Homo sapiens: one gene and its partners. The protein of the gene in region 2 purifies or fractionates together with the protein of the main gene of each other region. This does not show direct contact. Each region holds a gene or a part of one and is shown on either strand. Other genes may lie near its edges. The genes, in order: STX17, NAXD, PRKACB, PON2, DDX19B, TMEM209 and PPT2.

Region 1 (3,500 bases), on a different chromosome or scaffold from region 2:
CATGTATTTAGGCAAATTTGGTTTCTTTTTAATGTATGCTACTTGAGGCTGATGTGCTTTTTCAGTTTGAGGTCTTACATTTTAATTATCAGTATATTCTCTTTGAATAATTCCTTCTTACTGTTTTCTTTGTTCTTTCTTTCTGGGACTTCTACTTGTTATTAAGCTTCTGATTTTATCCTTTATGTCTTTTATCTTCTTTTTTATACTTTTCATCTTTTTATTCCTCTGTGTTCTGAGTGATTTCTTCCAATCAATAATTGTTTCTTATCTATATAATTTACTGTTTAACACATCTTTTGAGATTTTCATTTCTAGAAGTTTTACTTGTTTTATATTCAGGCTGGCCTCTTACTGTTTCATAATATCTATTTTTTTAAAAGATTCTGTTCCTTTTTGGAATAGAATGTTTTTGGATATTTAAAAATATACTTACTTTAGTTTCTTTTTAAAATTATTTTATTATCTTTCGTCCATTAGGTATGAATTTTCCTGTTTTGTTGGGTCTGTGGATGGTCTCTTTTGGTAATGAATTTCTCCATATGTCCCCAGTTTCCATTCACTGTTGCACCTGTTTTACCCTCTTTGTTTTTGTACCTGGAGATTTTCCTTTTTGACTTTTGAGCCTTGTATCAAACATAAAAACCAAGTTACTAATGGGTAGGTATTGGAGGCAGTCTATATAACCAACACATCAAGATTTTCAACTGTGAAAGAAAGGGGATAAATATTTAATGTTTTGGGGATGATAGATCTCTGAGAATCCCTTGAAACAATGGACTCTATTCTCCAAAATAAACTATATTCACTTTTTTTTTCTTTTTTTTTTTTTGTAGAGATGGGATTTTGGCATGTTGCCCAGGCTGGCCATGAACTCCTGGGCTCAAGTGGTCCTCCCGCCTTGGCCTCCCAAAGTGCTGGTATTACAGACATGAGCCACCGTACCCGGCCCCTTCATTCACAATTTTTCATAAAGATTCAGTGGCTCCACAAAGTCTGTATGTGAATTCCTATCTTTATAGACCCTGGACTAAGACAGCATAACTCAGCAGTATTAACATACTCAACTTAAAATTTTTTAAACATGGGTGAGGTTGTGGCTAATGAAATGGCATGAAAGCATGGTGTACAATGGTGGCTTTCAAGCTTGGTTAAGCTGTGAAGCCCATTATTTATATAAGCTCTGATAAGCTCCAATTCATAAAATAGTTGTAAGTAAAGTTTCTACAACTGAAGTAGGGAGTGGAGTCCTGGAACCTACTCACCTCTAGCCCCTACGCTTGTACTCTGGCCCCAAATGCATACCCTTGGACTTTCTGGAACACTAGTAGGAAACTACTGGTGAAGTGGAAAAAGTATTTCAATGTAATTTCAGAAAATCTGGGTTCTTATTCCAGCTCTGTCACTGGTTTTTTGAATCAGTTGTAGGCAATACTAATCACTTTATTGAAAATGGAAGAGGCAGTTTAAAGCACATCAATGAGAAAAGTTGCATATTATGTTATCATATATTTGAAGTTGTGTAATTACAAAGTTACATTATGATGACATTAGACATGAAGTTTGATACAAGCATCAGTGTTAAGCCATTTGATACCTTTTTTAAAAAGGTTATTCAATGTCCAAGATAGATCAGAAAATGAAAACTTGGACAGTATACTCCTAGCTTTTTTAAAAGTATTTATATACATACATACCTACTTACATAGAAAAAGACCTGGAGAGACGTATGCCAAAATGTAAAGAGTACATTTTGTACTCTTTGTAAAAGGTGAGGAGATGACTGCTGACTTTATTTAATTCTTCATTTATTTATATTGTCTGAACATTCTAAAATATAATTTTTGTAAAGAGAAAAAGATTTAAAAATCAGTGGTTTCATAAAGAAAAAAACAAGTCACTCAAGGTCAGCATTAGAAATATTCTATTTATTGATTTAGAATAAATTGTAAAACTAATCGTTGGCTTTTAAAAATAGTGGAAACAGATTTGAAAACATTCTTAAAGAAATATTTTTCTTTTAGGTTTTTCTATATGAGTGGAGAAGACAGCTGTTACCAGGGAGGTCATACAACATTTTTTTAGGATGTCTGAAGATGAAGAAAAAGTGAAATTACGCCGTCTTGAACCAGCTATCCAGAAATTCATTAAGATAGTAATCCCAACAGACCTGGAAAGGTTAAGAAAGCACCAGATAAATATTGAGAAGGTGAGCTGTTTCATTTACTACCACAAGAAATAGTTACATAGTTTGATTTATATTGGTTGTTCATTTCAGCTAAATTTAGAATATTAGATAAGAGGCATTGCTGAAACACCTAGCTCCTATTGATTTAGCAACATTATGCATTTTTTAGCTGGTTTTTCTGTTCTGCATATATACCTCTCATATATTCCTTTTTCTGGGAAGGGATATAGGAATAGAGTCTATGCTTTTTTGTTTGTTTGTTTGTTTGAGAGACAAGGTCTTGCTCTGTTGCCCAGGCTGGAGTGCAGTGGCATGATCATAGCCTACTGCAACCTCAAACTTCTGGGCTCAAGCTATCTACACACCACTATCCGTGGCTAACTTATTTTTATTTTTTTGGAGAAACAAGTTCTTGCTTTGTTGCCCAGGCTGGTCTTGAACTCCTGGCCTCAAGCTGTCCTCCTGTTTTGCCTTCCAAAGTGTTGGGATTACAGGTGTGAGCCGTGGCGCCTGGCCAAGTCTATACCTTTTTAATTGTACATATTGAGGTTTTAGGCAGTTAATAATTAAGATACAAATTGATTGATGGTGCACTATAATGTAAAGGCAGAGAACTTTGGCTAATGTACCTGCCTTAATTTCATTCACCCCATGGCAAGTTTTTGAACTTTGAGTGTGTGTCTTTCAGTAACTCGTATTCTCTTTAGGTATACATACATTAAAGAAGTAAATCATTGTGAGATATGAGGGAATTTCCTTACTTCACAGCTTCCCTTTGAGGAAAGCTCACAATTGAGAAGTACTGCCTAATTCAGTTGAGGAAATAGGTAAGGAGAAGATGAATTAGTCTCAGGGACTATGATAGAGGTTGCATAGAACCTACCATGCTCCGGTGAAGTGGCTGTGGCATTTTTGGAAACATCAAGTTTACTCAGTACTGAGCATTAATTTGGCAGATTATGTTGTCTTATTTGCTGTGGGACAGGCCAGTGATATTTTTTGTTTCAAAAAGACTTTTCCCAGCATAAGTCTTAAGCTGCAGAACCTCCATTTATTTATTTATTTATTTATTTATTTATTTATTTATTTATTCATTCATTCATTCATTCATTCATTCATTCATTCTTTTGAAGGTTGGGAGTGGAGGATATGGTCATTAAGCCTTTCAATATAAACATTATTCATTACTCAACTCAGTAGCATATAGAAGTCAGAAAAGTGTACCTTTTTCTTCCATAGATACCATCTGTCTTTCTAGAATTCAAGTCCTTTTAAAAGTGGAGAAAATCAGTTCTGAGAATATTAAAATGAA
Region 2 (3,500 bases):
CTGTGTGTGACAGGTTTGCAGAAGGTGGAAACGAAGGGCCTCTGAGCAATAACAAGACCCTTCCTGCACTCGGCACATATGTCTGGTGCCAGGCCCTAGCCTGTGTTCCATGGGTCAGCGTGGAACTGGGCAGGCAAAAACCTGCCCCCGTGGGGCTCCCCCAGACCGCCTATGCTATAGAGCTTGCTGTGTGGAGGTGTTCTCTCTGCCGTCCAGGATTGTGGCCACTGAGGGCTTGAAATGTGGCTGGGAGGTGCGGGAGCAGAGCGTTTGCTCTTGTTTACTTTTCATTGTGTGTGTTTGCACCGACTGGATTGGGCTGTGCTGCTCTGGAGACAAGGGAGAGGAGGATGTCAGGTGGTGAAGGAACCGTAGAGAGCGGCAGCAGGGAGGGGGCTGTGAGAGTGGGCAGAGGGGCAGTTGGGGCGGCAGCACAGTGTGATGACGCCTGGGTCGAGCCCGGCCTCTCCACACCAGAGAGGAGCCGGCGCGGAGCTCCAGGTGCGGTGCTGTGATGTGTCGGGTGACCAAGAGGTGCAGGGCTGGGCCCCACAGGGTGTGGGGCTGCTGTCAGGGCTGTGGCTCTGGCCCTGAGTAAGCAGGGCAGGGCCAGTGTGGGTCATAAAGGCTCCTACGCGGCTGTGGGGCTGGGCCGGAGGCTGTGGTAAGGACCTGTGGGAGGGAAGGGTGCAGTCAGATGGTGAGAGGGGCCGGATTCTGGGTATGTTTGGAAAGTTTGGGGGTGGAATTTGCCGACAGATTGGATTGGAAAAGGCAAGGGGCACAGACTCCACCAAGGGTTTTGGTCTGAGCGAGTGGTCACTCCATGTGGTGGAAACGGGCTTGGGTGGGATGAAGATGAGGCGTTGGGTGTAGGGCGCAGTTTGGCTGCCAGTTAGACATCCAAGGGACGTGGCTAGAGGGCATTGGACAGTGGGGACACGGGCTTGGGAGTCATGCACATGTGGACGGTGCTTAAAGCTGGAAGACGAGGGAGTAAGAGGCGGAGGGGGGCTGGGGTTGGGGGCAGGGGGGACTTGGCACTCAGATGCTGGGAGCACGGGCTGGGGAGGAGGCAGCAGGGGCCTCCAGGAGTCAGTGAAGCCGCTGTTTCCAGACAGCTCCAGAAGGGCCTGTGTGTGCGACTCTGGGTCAGTTGGAGATGAGGCCTGAGAACAGTTGGTGCATCTCACAGTGCGGGGTGACCCTGACAAGGGAGCTTGTCGGGGAGGAAAGGGGACAGAAGCCTTAACAGTGGGCTCTAGGAGAGGTCACACCGAACAGGAAGGAGTTCTGAAAAAGCAAACCCCTGCCCTGTTCTGAATGAGAAACTGCAGCAGGGTCAGTGCGTTGTGTGGGGCCTGGTCTATAAGCACACAAAGTAGGCTTTACAGCCACACATGTATGTGATGGAAACAAACGGGCTAACTTTAGAGGGCAAAGATGATTTTGAAAATAGCCATCGTTCTTTTTCTAACTTGTCGTAACTGTTGAAAGCTAGGCATGTAAATCTGGGCATTAAAAGAGAGATCAGGGAGAGGCAATGGCCACATGCAGTGTGGGGCCTGGTTTGGGTCCTGACATGGGAAGAGGACATCAAGAGGAAATGGGAAATTTGGAAAATGCTGTGGTTTAATGAATAGTATTAACCAATGTGAACTTGGTCATGCTGATCCGGAATGTGGGTGTGTGAGGCGTTAACCTCGGGGAGGCTAGGCGAAGGGTACATGGGAGCCTTCTGTACTGATTAAATAATAAATCTAAATTACAGAAATTATTTAAAAGTCATTACTATTTATAAGTTATTTTTTCAAAATAAAATGTAAACAAATACATGACAGTAAGTAAATGAGGAATTGTGGGTAACCATCCTGGCCTTCCTTTCCTTCTTTAGTGACAGCCCCAATGCTGTTCATGAGGTGGAGAAGTGGCTGCCCCGGCTGCATGCTCTTGTCGTAGGACCTGGCTTGGGTAGAGATGATGCGCTTCTCAGAAATGTCCAGGTAATGTGTATACTCACTCACTTCCCTCATGACAGGCTTAGCCTTAGGCGTGAAGTTGGAACAGAGGCATTTCTCTTGCATTTTGTGTAGTGTTCCGTGTGCCTCTTTGTGGCATGATTGAGATAAGATTTGAGGGACGGAGGAGAAACTGAGTGCAAAGGTGGGGAGGAACTGTGCTGAGATGTGCTTCTCTCCGGGCCCGACTGTTTTCTCATGGAGCAGCTGCAGGAGGTGTGTGTGTGGAGTTGCTCAGTTGTTTTATGTCTGATGTGAGGAGAGGGTGAGCAGGACTGAGGAGGTGACAGAGGTTTGGGGTCAGGCCTGGGTGTATCTCCCAGGCCACCCCCTTCTTGCTGGGGGATCCTGGGGTTCCCTCAGCCTCCTGGGCCGTTGTTCCCACACAGCCCTGGCGCCATGCTCTGCTGACATCAGGCTGTGAGGTGACACGGGCCTGCTTGTCCGTGCCCACATGCATATGCGCATGGACTCTCATTTATGCTGGTATTTCTTTCTTAAAGTTCATCTTATGCCCACCTAAATCCAAAAGATGAAAGTTATTCTGATCACTTTGTGCCTGCTGTAAATAAATACCACCTGGGATCAGGGGCGATAAAAAGATGGGGATGGCTGCCAGCTCTGTGTTCCCTGCGTCCTCTGACGCTCCCTGGGCTGGTGTGTCTCTGCTGGGGGTTGTGCTCCTGTGGGGCTGCCCTCTGAGACCCTTTCTCAAGTTCCGGGGGACCCCTGTTAGAGCTCCTGGGGGAAGACACAGTGTGCCAGATGGCTTGGTGCCACAGGGTGCTCACATGTGCAAGGCGTGGTGACTGCATGGGGATCAGAGGCCGGGCATTAGTGAGGGACTACGCTTGAAGCCCTTAGAAGGTGCCTGGCCATTTTGTGTTCCCCAGATCAGCAGTCACCCTGAAAATGCCAGCCATCTGCATGGCACTCTGTTGGGTGCTTAGTTAATGGAGGGGTCTCTGAGGCTGCGGGGCTTGAAGGCGGCGAGTGATGGAGCCAGCAGTGCAGGATGAGTCATCTGAGGGGCAGGCAGACGCAGGCTGACACTGCACAGACCAGGAAAAGCGGCGTGGAGTCAGCACGGGAGCCCGTCTTTGAGCTTTAAGGTCTTACCCGCTCACCGGGAAGGAGGAGGTGGCCATGTTTAGGAGCAGTAGAACCCTCTGTCATCCCCGGGGAGAGGCTCTCAATGGGGAGTCCCATCTGCAGGCTGCGGGTCTGCGGTGCACGGCTGCTGCTTCCTGTCCAGCTCTGCATCCTGGGGGTGCGGATGAATTAGAGGTGAACGAGCCAGAGTGCTCTGCTTCAGGTTATTTTCTTTGTGAATTTAAGTTCACAATTTAAAAACTGGTATCTTAAAAAACCACTGTACTGCGTGGAAGTGTGAAAGGTGGGAAGTGAGGGTGTGCGTCGCTGCCCCTGCAGCCCAGACTCTGGACCTTGCATTCTGGTTCCTGTACACTGTTGCCGTGGTCT
Region 3 (3,500 bases), on a different chromosome or scaffold from region 2:
CCACTTGATCATGGTGGATAAGCTTTTGGATGTGCTGCTGGATTTGGTTTGCCAGTATTTTATTGAGGATTTTTGCATCAATGTTCATCAAGGATATTGGACTAAAATTCTCTTTTTTGGTTGTGTCTCTGCCTGGCTTTGGTATCAGGATGATGCTGGCCTCATAAAATGAGTTAGGGAGGATTCCCTCTTTTTCTATTGATTGGAATAGTTTCAGAAGGAATGGTACCAATTCATCCTTGTACCTCTGGTAGAATTCGGCTGTGAATCCATCTGGTCCTGGACTCTTTTTGGTTGGTAAGCTATTGATTATTGCCACAATTTCAGATCCTGTTATTGGTCTATTCAGAGATTCAACTTCTTCCTGGTTTAGTCTTCAGAGAGTGTATGTGTCGAGGAATTTATCCATTTCTTCTAGATTTTCTAGTTTATTTGCGTAGAGGTGTTTGTAGTATTCTCTGATGGTAGTTTGTATTTCTGTGGGATTGGTGGTGATATCCCCTTTATCATTTTTTATTGCGTCTATTTGATTCTTCTCTCTTTTTTCTTTATTAGTCTTGCTAGCAGTCTATCAATTTTGTTGATCCTTTCAAAAAACCAGCTCCTGGATTCATTAATTTTTTGAAGGGTTTTTTGTGTCTCTATTTCCTTCAGTTCTGCTCTGATTTTAGTTATTTCTTGCCTTCTGCTAGCTTTTGAATGTGTTTGCTCTTGCTTTTCTAGTTCTTTTAATTGTGATGTTAGGGTGTCAATTTTGGATCTTTCCTGCTTTCTCTTGTGGGCATTTAGTGCCATAAATTTCCCTCCACACACTGCTTTGAATGTGTCCCAGAGATTCTGGTATGTTGTGTGTTTGCTCTCGTTGGTTTCAAAGAACATCTTTATTTCTGCCTTCATTTCGTTATGTACCCAGTAGTCATTCAGGAGCAGGTTGTTCAGTTTCCATGTAGTTGAGCGGTTTTGAGTGAGATTCTTAATCCTGAGTTCTAGTTTGATTGCACTGTGGTCTGAGAGATAGTTTGTTATAATTTCTGTTCTTTTACATTTGCTGAGGAGAGCTTTACTTCCAACTCTGTGGTCAATATTGGAATAGGTGTGGTGTGGTGCTGAAAAAAATGTATATTCTGTTGATTTGGGGTAGAGAGTTCTGTAGATGTCTATTAGGTCCACTTGGTGCAGAGCTGAGTTCAATTCCTTGTTGACTTTCTGTCTCATTGATCTGTCTAATGTTGACAGTGGGGTGTTAAAGTCTCCCATTATTAATGTGTGGGAGTCTAAGTCTTTTTGTAGGTCACTCAGGACTTGCTTTATGAATCTGGGTGCTCCTGTATTGGGTGCATATATATTTAGGATAGTTAGCTCTTCTTGTTGAATTGATCCCTTTACCATTATGTAATGGCCTTTTTTGACTCTTTTGATCTTTGTTGGTTTAAAGTCTGTTTTATCAGAGACTAGGATTGCAACCCCTGCCTTTTTTTGTTTTCCATTTGCTTGGTAGATCTTCCTCCATCCTTTTATTTTGAGCCTATGTGTGTCTCTGCATGTGAGATGGGTTTCCTGAATACAGCATACTGATGGGTCTTGACTCTTTATCCAATTTGCCAAGTCTGTGTCTTTTAATTGGAGAATTTAGTCCATTTACATTTAAAGTTAATATTGTTATGTGTGAATTTGATCCTGTCATTATGATGTTAGCTTGTTATTTTGCTCGTTAGTTGATGCAGTTTCTTCATAGTCTCGATGGTCTTTACATTTTGGCATGATTTTGCAGCAACTGGTACCGGTTGTTCCTTTCCATGTTTAGCACTTCCTTCAGGAGCTCTTTTAGGGCAGGCCTGGTGGTGACAAAGTCTCTCAACATTTGCTTGTCTGTAAAGTATTTTATTTCTCCTTCACTTATGAAGCTTAGTTTGGCTGGATATGAGATTCTGGGTTGAAAATTCTCTTCTTTAAGAATGTTGAATATTGGCACCCACTCTCTTCTGGCTTGTAGAGTTTCTGCCGAGAGATCCGCTGTTAGTCTGATGGGCTTCCCTTTGAGGGTAACCTGACCTTTCTCTCTGGCTGCCCTTAACATTTTTTCCTTCATTTCAACTTTGGTGAATCTGACAATTATGTGTCTTGGAGTTGCTCTTCTCGAGGAGTATCTTTGTGGCGTTCTCTGTATTTCCTGAATCTGAATGTTGGCCTGCCTTGCTAGATTGGGGAAGTTCTCCTGGATAATATCCTGCAGAGTGTTTTCCAACTTGGTTCCATTCTCCCCATCACTTTCAGGTACACCAATCAGACGTAGATTTGGTCTTTTCACATAGTCCCATATTTCTTGGAGGCTTTGCTCGTTTCTTTTTATTCTTTTTTCTCTAAACTTCCCTTCTCGCTTCATTTCATTCATTTCATCTTCCATTGCTGATACCCTTTCTTCCAGTTGATCGCATCGGCTCCTGAGGCTTCTGCATTCTTCACGTAGTTCTCGAGCCTTGGTTTTCAGCTCCATCAGCTCCTTTAAGCACTTCTCTGTATTGGTTATTCTAGTTATACATTCTTCTAAATTTTTTTCAAAGTTTTCAACTTCTTTGCCTTTGGTTTGAATGTCCTCCCGTAGCTCAGAGTAATTTGATCGTCTGAAGCCTTCTTCTCTCAGCTCGTCAAAGTCATTCTCCGTCCAGCTTTGTTCCGTTGCTGGTGAGGAACTGCGTTCCTTTGGAGGAGGAGAGGCGCTCTGCTTTTTAGAGTTTCCAGTTTTTCTGCTCTGTTTTTTCCCCATCTTTGTGGTTTTATCTACTTTTGGTCTTTGATGATGGTGATGTACAGATGGGTTTTTGGTGTGGATGTCCTTTCTGTTTGTTAGTTTTCCTTCTAACAGACAGGACCCTCAGCTGCAGGTCTGTTGGAGTACCTGGCCCTATGAGGTGTCAGTGTTCCCCTGCTGGGGGGTGCCTCCCAGTTAGGCTGCTCAGGGGTCAGGGGTCAGGGACCCACTTGAGGAAGCAGTCTGCCCGTTCTCAGATCTCCAGCTGTGTGCTGGGAGAACCACTGCTCTCTTCAAAGCTGTCAGACAGGGACATTTAAGTCTGCAGAGGTTACTGCTGTCTTTTTGTTTGTCTGTGCCCTGCCCCCAGAGGTGGAGCTTACAGAGGCAGGCAGGCCTCCTTGAGCTGTGGTGGGCTCCACCCAGTTCGAGCTTCCCAGCTGCTTTGTTTACCTAAGCAAGCCTGGGCAATGGCGGGCGCCCCTCCCCCAGCCTCACTGCCACCTTGCAGTTTGATCTCAGACTGCTGTGCTAGCAATCAGCGAGACTCCGTGGGCGTAGGTCCCTCCAAGCCAGGTGCAGGATATAATCTCCTGGTGCGCCGTTTTTTAAGCCCGTGGGAAAAGCGCAGTATTCGGGTGGGAGTGACCTGATTTTCCAGGTGCCGTCTGTCACCCCTTTCTTTGACTAGGAAAGGGAACTCCCTGACCCCTTGCGCTTCCTGAGTGAGGCAATGCCTTGCCCTGCTTCG
Region 4 (3,500 bases), on a different chromosome or scaffold from region 2:
AGGCAAGATGAAGCTGCTAAGTTACTTGGGACTCTTGAACTGTCTGCATGATCCAGCACAGATGTAGTCAATCTGCTATTTGATATGAGTTTGCCTCCTCCCACTTAGTGTTTGGGCAATTGAAAGAAGGAAGGGAAATTCCAGGACAGCCAACCAGTCTAGGGGAGGGGAGGTAGAACTGGGGAAATACAAAAGTATCAATGAAAAAAAGGAGAAAGAACACATAGGAAACAGATGCCTAAGGAATGAGAGGCAGATCAACCTGAGGAAGCTGATTTAAAAGAAGAAAAAAAGAAAGGGAGGCAAGCAAGGTATTTGTAGAGAAACTCTGAAGGTGGCACTGTCAACTGATGGTTTATTTTTACTAAAAGAGTGCTGAGAACTCTGTCTGGAGTGAATGTGGTTACAACTATGAGGTACTGAGTTTATTACTGTTGCCAAATTGAGAGCAACTTAGCAATGACTGTCAAAACTCTAAACACATATTCTAAGGGAACAACAATCCCATTGTTAAGGACATATTCTACAGACACACAAACTCAACAGCAATGATGTTCACTGATTTGTTCATAGTTGCAAAAAACTGTAACAACCCAAATGTACATTAAAAGGGGAATGGTTAAATAAATCATGGAATGTGAAAATATTAAAAAGAACAAAGTAACTATATATGCTGATGTGGAAAGCTGCTCACACTGTTTTAGGAATGAAGAAGGTTGTGAAATATTTACACTAAAATTCTATTTGTGAAAAAAAGAGTCAATATATTTGTTTGCAAATGCACTGAAACTATCAGGAAAGATAAAAAAGGGAGCTTTATCTTTGGGGTTATTTCTGTTGGGGGTGATGAAGAGTTTGATGAGAGATTTTTATTTTTATTTACTTTCCATTTTATATCTTTCTATATTGTTTGCACATACACTGTTTATATGAACTTTGCACAAAAAATACTGTGCAGTTGTGAAGAAAAGGTAACATTATGTACAAACATAAGTTTCCAAAACCTAGTATTAAGTACAAAAAGCTAGTTTTGAAATATTATGCATAATTTGACCTCACTTATGTTTTTAAAAATTATGTACAGGAGTATTCATAAAAAGAAAAAGATGGAAGGACACTCAAAACTTGTTTAACAATGTTACCTATTCAGAGAAGAGAACATTTCCATGTAACCCGAGTTTTAATTTCTAAAGAGTAAAACAAAATATTAAATTGTCTCTCCTACCTCTAGAGAAGGATGTTGTTGTAAAGGACTAGAAGTGACTCAATGACAGTCTAGTTATTTCCACACTGTGGCTCTCAGAGTAAGATTATAAATAAATGGTCCCAGGCTTTTTAAAGTCTAAAAACCATTAGTCTAATCACAAACTCATCATTATAGGTGACAAATACAAAAACCAACTTTGCCTAAGGTTACATTGTGGCAGAATAGAACTAGAAACTAGGTGTTTTGACTGCTAATTCTTTTTGTTTCTAATCATACCATGAACCATATCTAAGGAAAGCCAATATTGGCTGGGCTCAGTGCCTCATGCCTGCAATCCCAGCACTTTGGGAGACCAAGCTGGGAGGATTGCTTGAGGCCAGGAGTTCAAGACCAGCCTGGACAACATAACAAGACCCTGTCTCTACAAAAATAAAAAACTAGCCATGAGTGGGGGCATGTGCCTGTAGTCTCAGCTACCTGGGAGGACGAGGCGGGAGGATCGCTTGAGCCCAGGATATCAGGGCTGCAGTGAGCCAAGATTGCGCTACTGCATTCTGGCCTGGGTGACAAAGTGAGGCCACCTCTCAAAAAAAAAAAAAAAAAAAATTAAAATTTAAAAAAAAGGAAAGCCAATATTTATTGTTCATTGATAATCTAACTACTAGTCTATTATGTACTAGGGACATGTACTTAGTAGATGATAAAGGGTAAAAGACAGCAAGACACAGACTCTACCTTGGAGAAAAACTGCAAACACACCAGAGAGACCCTCAGTGCTGGAGAAGAATCTGGACAGATCCCTCCTTATCTATAGCAAAATTGGGGCTTGCTCTTAGGAACCCCTACTCAAAGACTCAGACTCCACAATACATCCTACATAAAGTCAAGGGAAGAGGGAGACTCCCCCTCTGCAGTCATAGCTTAGAAGATAAAATAAAAACAAGTTTTTACAATACATATTGTGAAGTGCCGGTACATCAGTCCGTTCTCAGGCTGCTAATAAAGACATACCTGAGACCGGGTAATTTATAAAGGAAAGAGGTTTAATTGACTCACTGTTCCGTGTGGTTGGGGAGGCTTCAGGAAACTTACAATCTTGGTGGAAGGGGAAGAAAACACACCCTTCTTCACATGGCGGCAGCAAGGAGAAGTGCCGAGCAAAAGGGGGAAAAGCCCTTATAAAACCATCAGATCTCATGAGAACTCACTCACTATCACGAGAACAGCAGCACAGGGTAACCACCTCATGATTCAATGACCTCTCACTGGGTCCCTCCCACAACACGTGGGGATTATGGGAACTACAATTCAAGATGAGATTCGGGTGGGGACACAACCAAACCATATTGGTCAGTTACGTGTTAGCCATAAGATCAGATCCTAGTTATAGAGTAGTGAGCAGGGTAAATGCTGTCACTGCCTACATAAAGCTTCCTTCACTAGCTGACCACAAGGCTCACAGAACACAGACTGCAGCGGCCATACCTGACAAACAATACAGACGCAACAAAAATAGTTCAGAGAAGTCACAAAACAAGCAAGAAATCAAATGCTAAACATAGAATTACACACAAAAAAGAATAATTTACAGTGAGGGTAGGAAAGAAGAATAAATACAGGGTTCATCAGATCAAGAGGTTGACCAAAGAGGTTTTTGTTGATCTAATGTGATTTATCCACTGAAAAGCAGTAATTTCATGCTAAAATGCCATTAATGAGTGTTTTAATGTTAATGGCCAAAAAATGCAATGTGCCCAACAAGCATTTTCATATACATACCAATTCCTTTAATCAGGTGGCAGTGTGGAAGGTCTACAGATTCTACTTCTCTGGAGGCTTTAAGTCGATTTCTGTTACAAAGAAAAAAAAACAAAAAACAAAAAACTATTTGTTTATGTATTCCCTGCTTTGTTTTAGAAAGGGTTTAAAGAGGCTTACAGCAATACATAAAACACAGTTTAAGTCTAAAGCAGATGAAAGAGAAAATAGAAAGACAAGGGTAGGAAAATAAAACTGCACCAGAAATGAAGTTAAAACAAAAATGCCTATTGCAAAGTTCTATATACTGATGTGGGTTATTAAAAAAAAAAAGCCAATAACTCAACAAATAAAACTTATAATGCAAGTTCCTATGCAAATGTAAACACAGCACCATGTCACATTTCTCAGTGTTGGTGTTGTGGGAAAAGAGTTCCAGATGTAGAACCAGTAGCCCTGTCTTCCTTCTGAAGAGTCAAACGTGAAAAATGACTGTAAGCCTCACACAGAGACTGCAAAGAAGCCAAGAGAAAAT
Region 5 (3,500 bases), on a different chromosome or scaffold from region 2:
GTTTTCAAACTAGCTATTAGTTACTTACCATTGGTATCTGGTTTGATTTTCTCTTCCTTAAGATGCAAGTTGCTCAACTAAATGGAGAATATGGGGGAGGGGGAAAGTGTCAGGAAAAGCACTTAAAAAGATTTGGAATCAACAGAGCCTCCCTAATGAAGCTGGGGATAAAATAGCCATTCTCAAGGTATATTCATTAGGACCAATTCATTGGGTTGTTCCGTTTACTAAATGTCTGATGAGAATAAACAAAATTTCCCGTAAATACATCGGTGGAAAAAAATGCTCCAAATCTGTACCTTCTACTTAAAATTCTGTGAGAGAATTGTAATTTGTGAGTTTGCTTAATGCCCTGATTATAAACTTTCTCTCTTTGTAGAATATCATTAGAGTTGTCATTCTCTCATATTTCTTTTGTGTGTGGGGGGGAATCGCTGCATTCCAAATCATATTTCAAACAAGAGGAAATTTAAAGAGATTTTGAAAAATGCAGTCATACTTTGGAGAACACTGGGAAGGGAGGACTGTGATGAAAAGCATCTGTAAAGCCAGGTGCGGTGGCTCGCGCCTGTAATCCCAACACTTTGGGAGGCTCAGGCAGGCAGATCACGAGGTCAAGAGATCGAGACCATCCTGGCCAACATGGTGAAACCCCGTCTCTACCAAAAATACAAAAATTAGCTGGGCGTGGCGGTGCATGCCTGTAGTGCCAGCTACTTGGGAGGCTGAGGCAGGAGAATCGCTTGAACCCAGGAGGCGGAGGTTGCAGTGAGCCAAGATCACGCCACTACACCCCAGCCTGGCAACAGAGTGAAACTCCGTCTCACAAAAAAAAAAAGAAAAGAAAAGAAAAGAAAAGCATCTGTGGGTAGGAATCAGTCATACTGCAGGATACGTTAGAGCCGTAAGACCACAGTATGCTGATGTGCAGCCTCACATTCAAGTCACCTTTTGCTGGTGTCTGATACTGTAGTTGGGAACAGCCTGAAGCATTGTGGCACACTGTGTAATTAAAATACCCACTGGGCTGAAGTGGAAATAGAAAGGAAAGAGACATTTCAAAGAATAATTACTAAGACTTTGATCAAATACTGTATATTAGGGATATCCTAGCAGGTCTTATCTCCTCTATTAGAATGCAAATACCTTCCTGACAGGGCCTATTTCGTTTTCTACTGCTCCTTGAGGAGCAGGGCTACCCCACAGGAAATGTGCCCAGAGTAGCATATTTCTATTTTTGGCCTTTGGATGTAGTACAGAGCAAAGTAAGTGCTCTAGTCGTAAATTTTTTGTTTGTTTGTTTTTTGAGACAGAGTCTTGCTCTGTCACCTGGACTGGAGTGTAGGGGCGCGATCTCAGCTCACTGCAAGCTCTGCCTTCCGGGTTCACGCCATTCTACTGCCTCAGCCTCCCGAGCAGCTGAGACTACAGGCGCCCGCCACCACGCCCGGCTAATTTTTTGTATTTTCTTTTTTTTTAAGAGATGGGGTTTCACGGTGTTAGCCAGGATGGTCTTGATCTCCTGACCTCGTGATCCGCCTGCCTCAGCCTCCCAAAGTGCTGGGATTACAGATATGAGCTGCCACGCCCGGCCTTTCTAGTCGTACATTTTTATTAAAAACAAAACAAAACAAAAAAGCCTTTTTTTTTTTTTTGAGACAGAGTCTCGCTCTGTTGCCCAGGCTGGAGTGCAGTGGCCTGATCTCAGCTCACTGTAAGCTCCGCCTCCCGGGTTCATGCCATTCTCCTGCCTCAGCCTCCGGAGTAGCTGGGACTACAGGCGTCCGCTACCACCCCCAGCTAATTTTTTTGTATTTTTAGTAGAGGCAGGGTTTCATCATGTTAGCCAGGATGTTCTCAATCTCCTGACCTCGTGATCTCCCTGCCTCGGCCTCCCAAAGTGCTGGGATTACAGGCATGAGCCACCGCACCTGGCCAAAAAAGACTTTTTTAAAGGTCAGAAAGCATCTGTAAGTCTTGGACCCCAGCACAGGGATTAGATAGATGGAAAGTCTGGCGTGAGTAAGTAACCTTTCAAGCTAAAGCCAACCCTAATCATAAAATATCAAGCAGGGCCTAAGACATCATCTAGTAAAAAGAAAATGAAAATCACAACCTAATGGTTCTTTCTTTTTTTTCTGCAGACGAGGTCTCACTCTGTTGGCCAGGCTGGAGTGGTGCAGTGGCATGATCATGGCTCATTGAAGCCTCAACCTCCTAAGGCTCAGGCAATCCTCCTGCCTTAGCCTCCCAAGTAGCTGAGACTACAGGCACTCACCACCATGTCCAGCTAATTTTTTTTTTTTGAGGCGGAGTCTTGCTCTGTTGCCAGGATGGAGTGCAGTGGTGTTATCTCAGATCACTGCAACCTCCGCCTCCTGGGTTCAAACGATTCTCCTGCTTCAGCCTCCCAAGTAGCTGAGACTACAGGCATGCACCACCATGCCCAGCTAATTTTTGTATTTTTAATAGAGACAGGGTTTCACCACATTGGCCAGGATGGTCTCAATCTCTTGACCTCATGATCCGCCCACCTTGGCCTCCTAAAGTGCTGGGATTACAGGCATGAGCCACTGCGCCCAGCCTGCCCAGCTAATCTTTTATTGTAGAGTTGGGATCTTACTGTGTTGCTCAGGCTGGTCTTGAGCTCCTGGGCTCAAGCGATCCTCCTGCCTCAGCCTCCCAAAGTGCTAGAATTATAAGTGTGAACTACGCATTAGGCCGCATTTCTGTTGTCCCTCTAAGTCCAAGAACAGGCGAAAGGGGAAGGAGGGTAGAGAGGAGAGAACAAAAAAATGTTTTAATTGGTGGTTTGTTGAGAATGGAGGAGCCCCATTTCTATTTCTCTTTTTTTTTTTTTTTTTTTTTGAGACGGAGTCTTGCCCTGTCGCCCAGGCTAGAATGCAGTGGTACGATCTTGGCTCACTGCAACCTCCGCCTCCTGGGTTCAAGCAATTCTCCTACCCCAGCCTCCCAAGTAGCTGGGATTACAGGCGTGTGCAACTACGCACAGCTAATTTTTGAATTTTTAGTAGAGACGGGGTTTCACTATGTTGGTCAGGCTGGTCTCGAACTCTCGACCTCGTGATCCACCCGCCTCGGCCTCCCAAAGTGCTGGGATTACAGGCGTAAGCCACTGCACCCAGCCAGGAGCCCCATTTCTTTTTGTTTGTTTGTTTGTTTTGTTTTTTGAGATGGAGTCTCGCTCTGTCGCCCAGGCTGAAGTGCAGTGGCGTGATCTTGGCTCACTGCAAGCTCTGCCTCCCAGGTTCACGCCATTCTCCTGCCTCAGCCTCCGGAGTAGCTGGGACTACAGGCGCCTGCCACCATGCCCGACTAACTTTTTATATTTTTAGTAGAGACGGGGTTTCACCGTGTTAGCCAGGATGGTCTCGATCTCCTGACCTCGTGATCTGCCCGCCTCGGCCTCCCGAAGTGCTGGGATTACAGGCATAAGCCACCGCGCCCAGCCTCCCATTTCTATTCATGGAAATGGACAA
Region 6 (3,500 bases), on a different chromosome or scaffold from region 2:
AAGTACAATTATATACCTGAGAGCCTTTTTATAATCAATGTAAAAATATGTTTCAGGCAGGGCGCTAAGGTGAACTGTGTGTCACAGAGTAAAATGTATGATATAATTTAGTTTTTAGTTTTAGGCACACAAAGTAAGACAGGAGCTTTCCCACTGCCTAATGTGTGCCAGATTTACATTTCTGTCCAACAGAATGGAAGATTACAGAAAAAATGTTCCAGAAGTAGAAGACTTTCTAACAATGCATAAATCATAAATATTAAGTCACTTTTATTTTCCACTTACCTCTTCTGCGGCTTGTTTAGAGCTGAGATCGGCTTCATCTTTGTTAGCACATGGGGCCTGAGACCTACAGGCAAGCTGATACTGAAACTTCTTTAAAGTTTGTGCATAATCCCCCATAGAACGACTATAGTTCCAGAAAGTAGGACTGCTGGAAGGAGAGGTAGAATCTGGGCTCCCTACAATTGTTAAGATAAACAGTATCAGTGTGTTGTAGCAATTCTGACATCTACAGTTAACACTTATATCTAGGCAATGGCAATCCAGGAATCAGAAGACCAACCCTCAAGGAGATTCTCTTCTCCCCAACATAATTTTCTCTTTAGAGATCACAGTCTGCTTGTGATTAAAAATTTTAAATAGTATTTTCTGAGCCATATCAATTTAACAGTCATAAAAACAATAAGCAGTCAAAGGCATCTGTCTAGTTCTGTTGAAAAGTTAAGCTCGTTTCATTCTCTAAGACTTTTAAATCATTTAGTAAGAAACAAACAAAAGACAAATTTCTTTAGGAAATAAATAGGCCAAGCAAGTTCTTTATTTGAAATTTCTAGAAGCTCTTTCTAAAAGGGATAACTATAGCCTCCTACTAAAAGATTACTCTCCTGGTAACAAGCTAAACTTATTTGTCCCTGTACTTCACTGTGTTTTACTTAACAGCCTGTGGTAATTCCTGAGTTGTACTAAAAGACTATCTGATGGTTATCCTTCTAAATTTATAAATTTACTTTTAAGAAATGTAAAAAAAAGTTCTATTTAGGAATGTACTCCTACAGAGGCCTCTGAACCAGGATATTAATCACACTTCCGGGTTATAGTTTTTGTCTGTTTTCCCAAATAGAATTTGAGCTCCTTGAAAGCAGGGAGCATTTTTTTTCCCTAGCATCTAGCATAGCGCCTGAATAAATAAGCAAGTTTTTGACAACAATTATATGGTATTTATGAAGGGCTTATATTTTCGGAGTTTAACTGATATAAAAAATATCAATTGGTACTTTATACCCTCAAACAAAACTTATAAATAGAAACAATTTTTTTTAATCTTAGCAGAATTCTAAAAGGAATGACTAGAAAATAATAAAACTCATTTTCCTTATGCTTACGGGTACAAAGAATTAGGAATCATCAAACGGGTATGTAGCAATATAATTCATCAAAATTTTGATGGTTAGCTAGTTTTGTTAGCGTTGGTGAATGTTTCATGCTGGCATAAAAAGTTATATACAGTAAAGAAACATCACACTGTATGAAATTCTGGCAAAACTGACTTTAGGAATGAATTAATGTCAAGAAAAGCAGTTGTCAACCAACATAAATGATTTAATAAATAGAGAACAGAAATGGAAAGTAAAAACATGGTCATAACAGAGCATAAAGTTATCCTATTTGATTAATCATTGCGATTATTAACTTTAAGAAACGTAAGTTTTCTATGAAAAAACTTGTATTTGAGTAAAATTTCATTGAGGACTGGCTTTAGACAATGAATAGAAATAGGAAGTTCTAGTACCTCTGGGCATTAGTCAAAGCAAAGAAAAAATGTACATAGCAAGTAATGACAAAATAGGGCCTTTCCATGATGAACACCACCATCACCACCACCACCACCACCACAACAACAGCACACAATCTATAGCTGGAGAACCTCAAAGACCTAAGAGTCAAAGCACATGGAGATTTGGAAATCTGGGCAACACAGGAAACCAGACAACCTAAAACATCTCCCACTATAAATATCTAAAAACATTTATTAAATAAAATACATTCTTTAGGCCAGTGCGCGGTGGCTCACGCCTGTAATCCCAGCACTTTGGGAGGCCGAGGCGGGCAGATCACTTGAGGTCAGGAGCTCGAGACAAGCCTGGCCAACATGGTGAAACCCTGTCTCTACTAAAAATACAAAAATTAGCCAGGTATGGTGGTGCATGCCTGTAATCCCAGCTACTCAGGAGGCTAAGGCAGGAGAATTGCTTGAACCCGGGAAGCGGAGGTTTCAGTGAGCCGAGATCACCCCACTGCACTCCAGCCTGAGCAACAGAGCTAGACTCTATCTCAAAAACAAAAAAAACCTCGATCTCAAAAAAAAAAACAACATTATTAAGATGAATAATGGAGCTTGCAAAAAAGTAAGGCTATGAATAGCCAGTGGTTAAAAATGAAAAGAGAATTAAAAATCTAAATAGCCTGTAAGAGGCTGCTGTGGCGTGGCTGCTCTAGAGAATTTTGTAGGCCTTGAGAAATCTATCAGCTTGGATTCATTGCCCAAGTGGGAAACGGAGATAAGGATTTGGGCCCTTAAGAGGCAGAGAGTTGGGCTGACACCTTTCTCCTACCCCTAGTCCCTGGTCCTGGTAGAGGACCAGGAATCTCAAAGGGCCACATTCAGAGTAGATAAGAAAAAAATCTGTTCAATGGGACCAGGAGATAATGAAAGCTTGTCTGTCATAGGTTGTTGGGAGACTTAAAAAAAAAAAAAAAGAAAAACAACACCCTGAGATTTAAAAATTATAGATATATCTTCACATGGGTTTAGAGTGCCCATTTATATTACCTGTGAGGTCCAGGAATCTCCAAGCTTAGAAATTACTTAAGTTAGCTCAAAGTCAATAATACTCCTAAGGCACCTGACAGAGGCAAATACAAAACAGCTAGGAAGAGACAAGGCTTCCATCCAGCCAAGATAAGCTTACCAGAAACAAACAGAAATTACATCAATCACAAGGAAACAAGACTGCAGTCCTAACAACCAACAAGACAAAAATGGTCAGTATTTAACCTCCAAGAACTTTAGATAATTGAACTATTGGACAAATAACATTTAAAAAGTGTGTTTAAGCAACTGAGATAGAAAAAGGAACTGAAAACATAAGAATAAAAAATATTCTACAAAAACCTGGCATAATTGAAAAGGACCAAATAAAACTATAAAATGAGAACAAGTGGCTGAAATTAAAAAACTCAATGAATTAGTTAAATAACAGTTTAGACATTACTAAAGAAAGAGCTGATGAGTCCACAGTGACTAAACCAAAAAAGCTGGGGTGGGGGTAAAACAGAATGCTCCTCTTTAGAGAAGAATGCCAAACTATGAAGTGTAGAAATAAATAATTAGAAAATCTCCACTTTGGCCAGGCGCAGTGACTCACACTTGTAATCCCAGCACTTTGGGAGGCCAAGGCGGGCGGATCACAAGGTCAGGAGATCGAGACCATCCTGGC
Region 7 (4,291 bases), on a different chromosome or scaffold from region 2:
TAATGTGTGCTTGTTCCCCCACTTTCCCTTTGCTTTTGAGGCTGCTTAGAGTCTCTGGGCTGGTCAATGTTCAGATCCATTCCCTAAACCCCCCTACTCCCACCCACCACCTCCCACCAAGACGCATCTCCAGCTCCTGAGTCGACCTGCAGTACAGCGTTATTAGTCTTTTTATTTGCTTATTGCATCTTGGGAGCGCGTGGGTGGGTGAAGGGAGCGAGGATAGGAAGTCTATGGAGATTTACACCAGTTTTTTTTTTTTTTTAAACAAAAACACAGCCAGATAATTATTATTCTTCCCTTACGTCCCCCCAGCCCCCACCTGGGGCAGTCGCTCTCCCGGCTGCGTCCCTTTTCGTCCATGTCCTAGCAGAGACTACAGAGCAGTACAGAGGCTCTCGCTGAAACCAGTCCCAGGCTCCACAGAGTCAGATCACGGCTTCACACCAGTCGTTCTGGTCACTTAGGCGTTCGCGTGAGCGCTCAACCCCTTACCGCCACCTCATCGTCACTCTACACCATTCTGAGCGCAAAAATGTTTTGATTGAGACAAATTTAGACCAAGCAATGACCTTGTAAACAGAGAGAGGGGCTCAGACATGCTGAGAAATCCTTATCTCTAGAGAAACGTCTTTAAATGCTAAGTAAAAGCCCTAGCAAGTAAAAGCCCTGAGGCACTAGGGTGTCGGTTAGGGGTCACAGGCGGAGAGGTGGGGCGCCTGGGGGTTTCGGTAGGGAGCCACCCACAGATAACTCAGACAGCCAGATTCTGGGGGTCGTTCAGGTTGAAAGACTGGTCGAAATTACGCGGGCATGAGTCAGCGCATCCCTACGCGCCCTCCGCCCCTTGAGGGTGGGTCGCTTATAGGGAGGGGAGTAGAGTAGGGCAGGAGAAACTGGGCCAGGCTGCACTTAGCTCAAGGGGCCTCGAGGACTCTCTGCGTCTCTGGAGACAAGGGCACTACACGCACTTCAGAATGAAGAGTTGTAAGTCGCTGACCTGGGGCGGACTGGAGGGTGGGGTGGGGTGGGTGTTGAGGGGCACGCCCGGGCTGGCATCAGCCCTCCAGGCCACCCTGCCACTCACCCAGCACACGGCAAAATGCAGAGGACTACCTTTCCCTGGTCCGCCCCCTGGCCGCCCCTTGGGGAATGCAAACTTCGTGTTCTGCTGCGGAGCCAGACGCCTGTATTGGGAAGTGGGGAGAATCAAGGCGGGGAAATCGGACTTTTGGGTCGCTGGGGGCAACGAAGCCTGGAGAGGCCTTCTTTCCATTCCCAGAATATGTTTGCTGCTTTTTCCTCTCCCCACTGGCCTAAATGGATCGCTCCGCCTGTTTCCTCCCCAGCACCTAGGGCGCAATGGAATATTCCATTGCCCCTCCTGTCCTGGGTCTGTGTTGCGGGGAACGCTCGCGCGGTTGCCAGAGAAAGCCCCGGACGTGACGGATTTGCGCGACCCCAAGCAGCCCGCCCTTCCCCCTCCCATCCGTCATTCCCCTGCGCTCTCTTTCCTCACCCTTCCCCCCGCCACCGTGGGTTCCAGACTTGGGATAAGTAAACAGCGGGTGGAGCGAGGCCTACGGACCCAGGCCAGGTGGGAGTCTGCACTCTTCAAGGGGCCTGGGCTGCTGCTCACGGGTATTAAAGAACTCCGCGTTGTTCATGGCTGAGGCGATGCATTAGGAAGATCCTGGACCTAGAGAACAAGTCCCCCGAACGCTGAGTTGGAGGCGGGACTTCGGGTGCGCGTTGGTGCGTCAACGTGGTGGGGGGGTGTGTTTGTAGGGAGAGGGCTGGAGTAAGTTAAAAGTAGGCTATTTTGTGACACGGACCTGGTGTGGGAGCGAGAGGAGGTGGCTTGATTGCCGGGCGTCTGTTCCGAGGGAGGAGGGTGTTGCCATCTCCCTCACATGCCCTTATCACCCCTTTCTCAGGCGGGAGCATGCTGGGGCTCTGCGGGCAGCGGCTCCCCGCGGCGTGGGTCCTGCTTCTGTTGCCTTTCCTGCCGCTGCTGCTGCTTGCAGCCCCCGCGCCCCACCGCGCGTCCTACAAGCCGGTCATCGTGGTGCATGGGCTCTTCGACAGCTCGTACAGCTTCCGCCACCTGCTGGAATACATCAATGAGGTCTGGCAGGGGACACCTGGGTGCAGGGCGTTAGAGGCGTCTACTGTGGCAGGGGAGGGAGAGCGGGGAACTGAAAGCCACCCCTCTGGGCCTGCCCAGTTCCTCAGGGAGCTGGTGCTGGCGTGGGGGAGAGTTGGGGGACGGGATCCCTGGTTCTAGCAGGGTACAATAGACCTGTGGACGCGGGCCAGGGGGTGGCGTGTGGGAGCTTCTTAGCCTATCCCCGGTGGCTGCATTGCCCCCTTCCCACAGACACACCCCGGGACTGTGGTGACAGTGCTCGATCTCTTCGATGGGAGAGAGAGCTTGCGACCCCTGTGGGAACAGGTGCAAGGGTTCCGAGAGGCTGTGGTCCCCATCATGGCAAAGGCCCCTCAAGGGGTGCATCTCATCTGCTACTCGCAGGGTAGGCGACTCCCCTGCCCCTAACTCCTAAGCCCTATCTGAGGCTTGATCCTTATCTGAGGGACACTTCCTAGCGTCCCTTTTTCTGAACCACATTGCTCCAGGCACAACCCTGGTACCTGAGCCCTTCCTTTCTGACTTCCCTCAGCACCTGGGTCTCATCTCTGTCTTGAATGGGAGGGAGGCTCCCTACACTGCTGCCCTTTTGCTTCCTGTTACCCATGGTTCTTGGACATAAGGGCTAATGGGGCAGGTAAAAACATCCTAGAACTAGAGGCAGGAGGCCCAGCATCTAATTCGGGCTCAGTCACTTATATGATGTGTGACCTTTTGGCACAGGGTGTGCCTGCCTTCTGTAAGCCTCAGTCTCCTTTGTGTACAGTGTGTGTCTGTGTGTGTCTCTGTGTGTGTGTGTGTGTGTGTGTGTGTGTGTGTGGTGGGGGTGGGGGGTGCTGCTGGCTTTGCTGTCCTTAAGTGCCTGCCCAATGTGGTGTTCTGCTTACAGGGGGCCTTGTGTGCCGGGCTCTGCTTTCTGTCATGGATGATCACAACGTGGATTCTTTCATCTCCCTCTCCTCTCCACAGATGGGACAGTATGGAGGTGAGTGGGCACTAGACTCCATAGAATGCCCTGAGTTTTGGGGGAACAGAGGTTTATGGTCACTTAGCATTGCCATTCGCTTGCCAGACACGGACTACTTGAAGTGGCTGTTCCCCACCTCCATGCGGTCTAACCTCTATCGGATCTGCTATAGCCCCTGGGGCCAGGAATTCTCCATCTGCAACTACTGGCATGGTGAGTGGGGATGCTGAACTGGGGCTTCCATGGATCAGGTCAGTTGCTTCCACCTCTGCTACAACCAATAGCAGTGATGACAATAAAGATAACTTACATTTATTGAGTTATTTGAACAGGCTCTGTTCAGAATTTTTTTTTTTTTTGAGACGGAGTCTTGTTCTGTTGCCCAGGCTGGAGTGCAGTGCACCATCTTGGCTCACTGCAACCTCCGCCTCCCAGGTTCAAGTGATCCTCCTGCCTCAGTCCCCCTAGTAGCTGGGATTACAGGCAGGCGCCATCATGCCCGGCTAAGTTTTGTATTTTAAGTAGAGATGGAGTTTCGCCATGTTGGCCAGGCTGGTCTCGAACTCCTGACCTCAGGTGATCCACTCGCCTCGGCCTCCCAAAGTGCTGGGATTACAGGTGTGAACCATTGCACCTGGCCCAGAATGTTTTAAGTGTGTCACCTTATTGCCTTAGAAGGTTTAGTCTGATGTGGGAGTCAGCAAACCTTGTCTATAAAGGGCCAGAGAGTAAATATTTTTGACTTTGTAGGACATATAGTCTGTTTCACAACTCCTCAATTCTGCTGTTGTAGTGTGAAAGCAGCCATGTACCATATGTGAATGAATGTGCCTGTGTTCCAGTAAAACTTCATTTACAAAAACAAGTAGCAGGCTGGATTTGGTCCTTTGGTCACAGTTTGCCAACCTCTAGACCAGACCATGGGGCCAGAATACTTGGGTTTGAATCTTGACCCTATTGGGTGCCTTTGGGCAAGTTACTTAACCATTCTGTTACTCAGTTTTCCTTATCTGTAAAATATTATAGCATGTACTTCACCAGGTGGTTGTAAGGATTAAATAAATAAATGAATGCAATGTACTTTGAATAGTACCTGGCTCATATAGTAGATACTAGATAGAAGTACTTGCTATTGCCAGGTGTGGTGGCTCACACCTGTAATCCCAATATCTTGG

What was found.
Region 1: the proteins of NAXD (region 2) and STX17 purify together in Homo sapiens (affinity purification with mass spectrometry; one large-scale study listed by BioGRID and IntAct). This does not show direct contact.
Region 3: the proteins of NAXD (region 2) and PRKACB purify together in Homo sapiens (co-immunoprecipitation; one large-scale study listed by IntAct). This does not show direct contact.
Region 4: the proteins of NAXD (region 2) and PON2 purify together in Homo sapiens (affinity purification with mass spectrometry; one large-scale study listed by BioGRID and IntAct). This does not show direct contact.
Region 5: the proteins of NAXD (region 2) and DDX19B purify together in Homo sapiens (affinity purification with mass spectrometry; one large-scale study listed by BioGRID and IntAct). This does not show direct contact.
Region 6: the proteins of NAXD (region 2) and TMEM209 purify together in Homo sapiens (affinity purification with mass spectrometry; one large-scale study listed by BioGRID and IntAct). This does not show direct contact.
Region 7: the proteins of NAXD (region 2) and PPT2 purify together in Homo sapiens (affinity purification with mass spectrometry; one large-scale study listed by BioGRID and IntAct). This does not show direct contact.

The regions. Positions count from the first base shown.
Region 1 is NC_000009.12:99,913,154-99,916,653, forward strand, and holds part of STX17 (syntaxin-17), read left to right. Parts: exon of another isoform or gene 1-998; intron 999-2,024; 5' UTR 2,025-2,086; coding exon 2,087-2,209; intron 2,210-3,500. UniProt on the Homo sapiens protein: SNAREs, soluble N-ethylmaleimide-sensitive factor-attachment protein receptors, are essential proteins for fusion of cellular membranes.
Region 2 is NC_000013.11:110,625,545-110,629,044, forward strand, and holds part of NAXD (ATP-dependent (S)-NAD(P)H-hydrate dehydratase), read left to right. Parts: intron 1-1,894; coding exon 1,895-2,003; intron 2,004-3,500. UniProt on the Homo sapiens protein: Catalyzes the dehydration of the S-form of NAD(P)HX at the expense of ATP, which is converted to ADP.
Region 3 is NC_000001.11:84,231,271-84,234,770, forward strand, and holds part of PRKACB (cAMP-dependent protein kinase catalytic subunit beta), read left to right. Parts: intron 1-3,500. UniProt on the Homo sapiens protein: Mediates cAMP-dependent signaling triggered by receptor binding to GPCRs.
Region 4 is NC_000007.14:95,421,529-95,425,028, forward strand, and holds part of PON2 (serum paraoxonase/arylesterase 2), read right to left. Parts: intron 3,058-3,500; coding exon 2,987-3,057; intron 2,161-2,986; exon of another isoform or gene 1-2,160. UniProt on the Homo sapiens protein: Capable of hydrolyzing lactones and a number of aromatic carboxylic acid esters. Has antioxidant activity. Is not associated with high density lipoprotein.
Region 5 is NC_000016.10:70,309,186-70,312,685, reverse strand, and holds part of DDX19B (ATP-dependent RNA helicase DDX19B), read right to left. Parts: intron 78-3,500; coding exon 29-77; intron 1-28. UniProt on the Homo sapiens protein: ATP-dependent RNA helicase involved in mRNA export from the nucleus.
Region 6 is NC_000007.14:130,184,907-130,188,406, forward strand, and holds part of TMEM209 (transmembrane protein 209), read right to left. Parts: intron 462-3,500; coding exon 286-461; intron 1-285. UniProt on the Homo sapiens protein: Nuclear envelope protein which in association with NUP205, may be involved in nuclear transport of various nuclear proteins in addition to MYC.
Region 7 is NC_000006.12:32,152,650-32,156,940, forward strand, and holds the start of PPT2 (lysosomal thioesterase PPT2 isoform a precursor), read left to right. Parts: upstream 1-1,491; 5' UTR 1,492-1,755; intron 1,756-1,937; coding exon of another isoform or gene 1,938-1,945; coding exon 1,946-2,128; intron 2,129-2,380; coding exon 2,381-2,534; intron 2,535-3,038; coding exon 3,039-3,134; intron 3,135-3,221; coding exon 3,222-3,329; intron 3,330-4,291. UniProt on the Homo sapiens protein: Catalyzes the cleavage of thioester bonds from S-palmitoyl-CoA or S-palmitoyl-N-acetylcysteamine (unbranched structures) but does not have activity against palmitoylcysteine or palmitoylated proteins, branched structures or bulky head groups.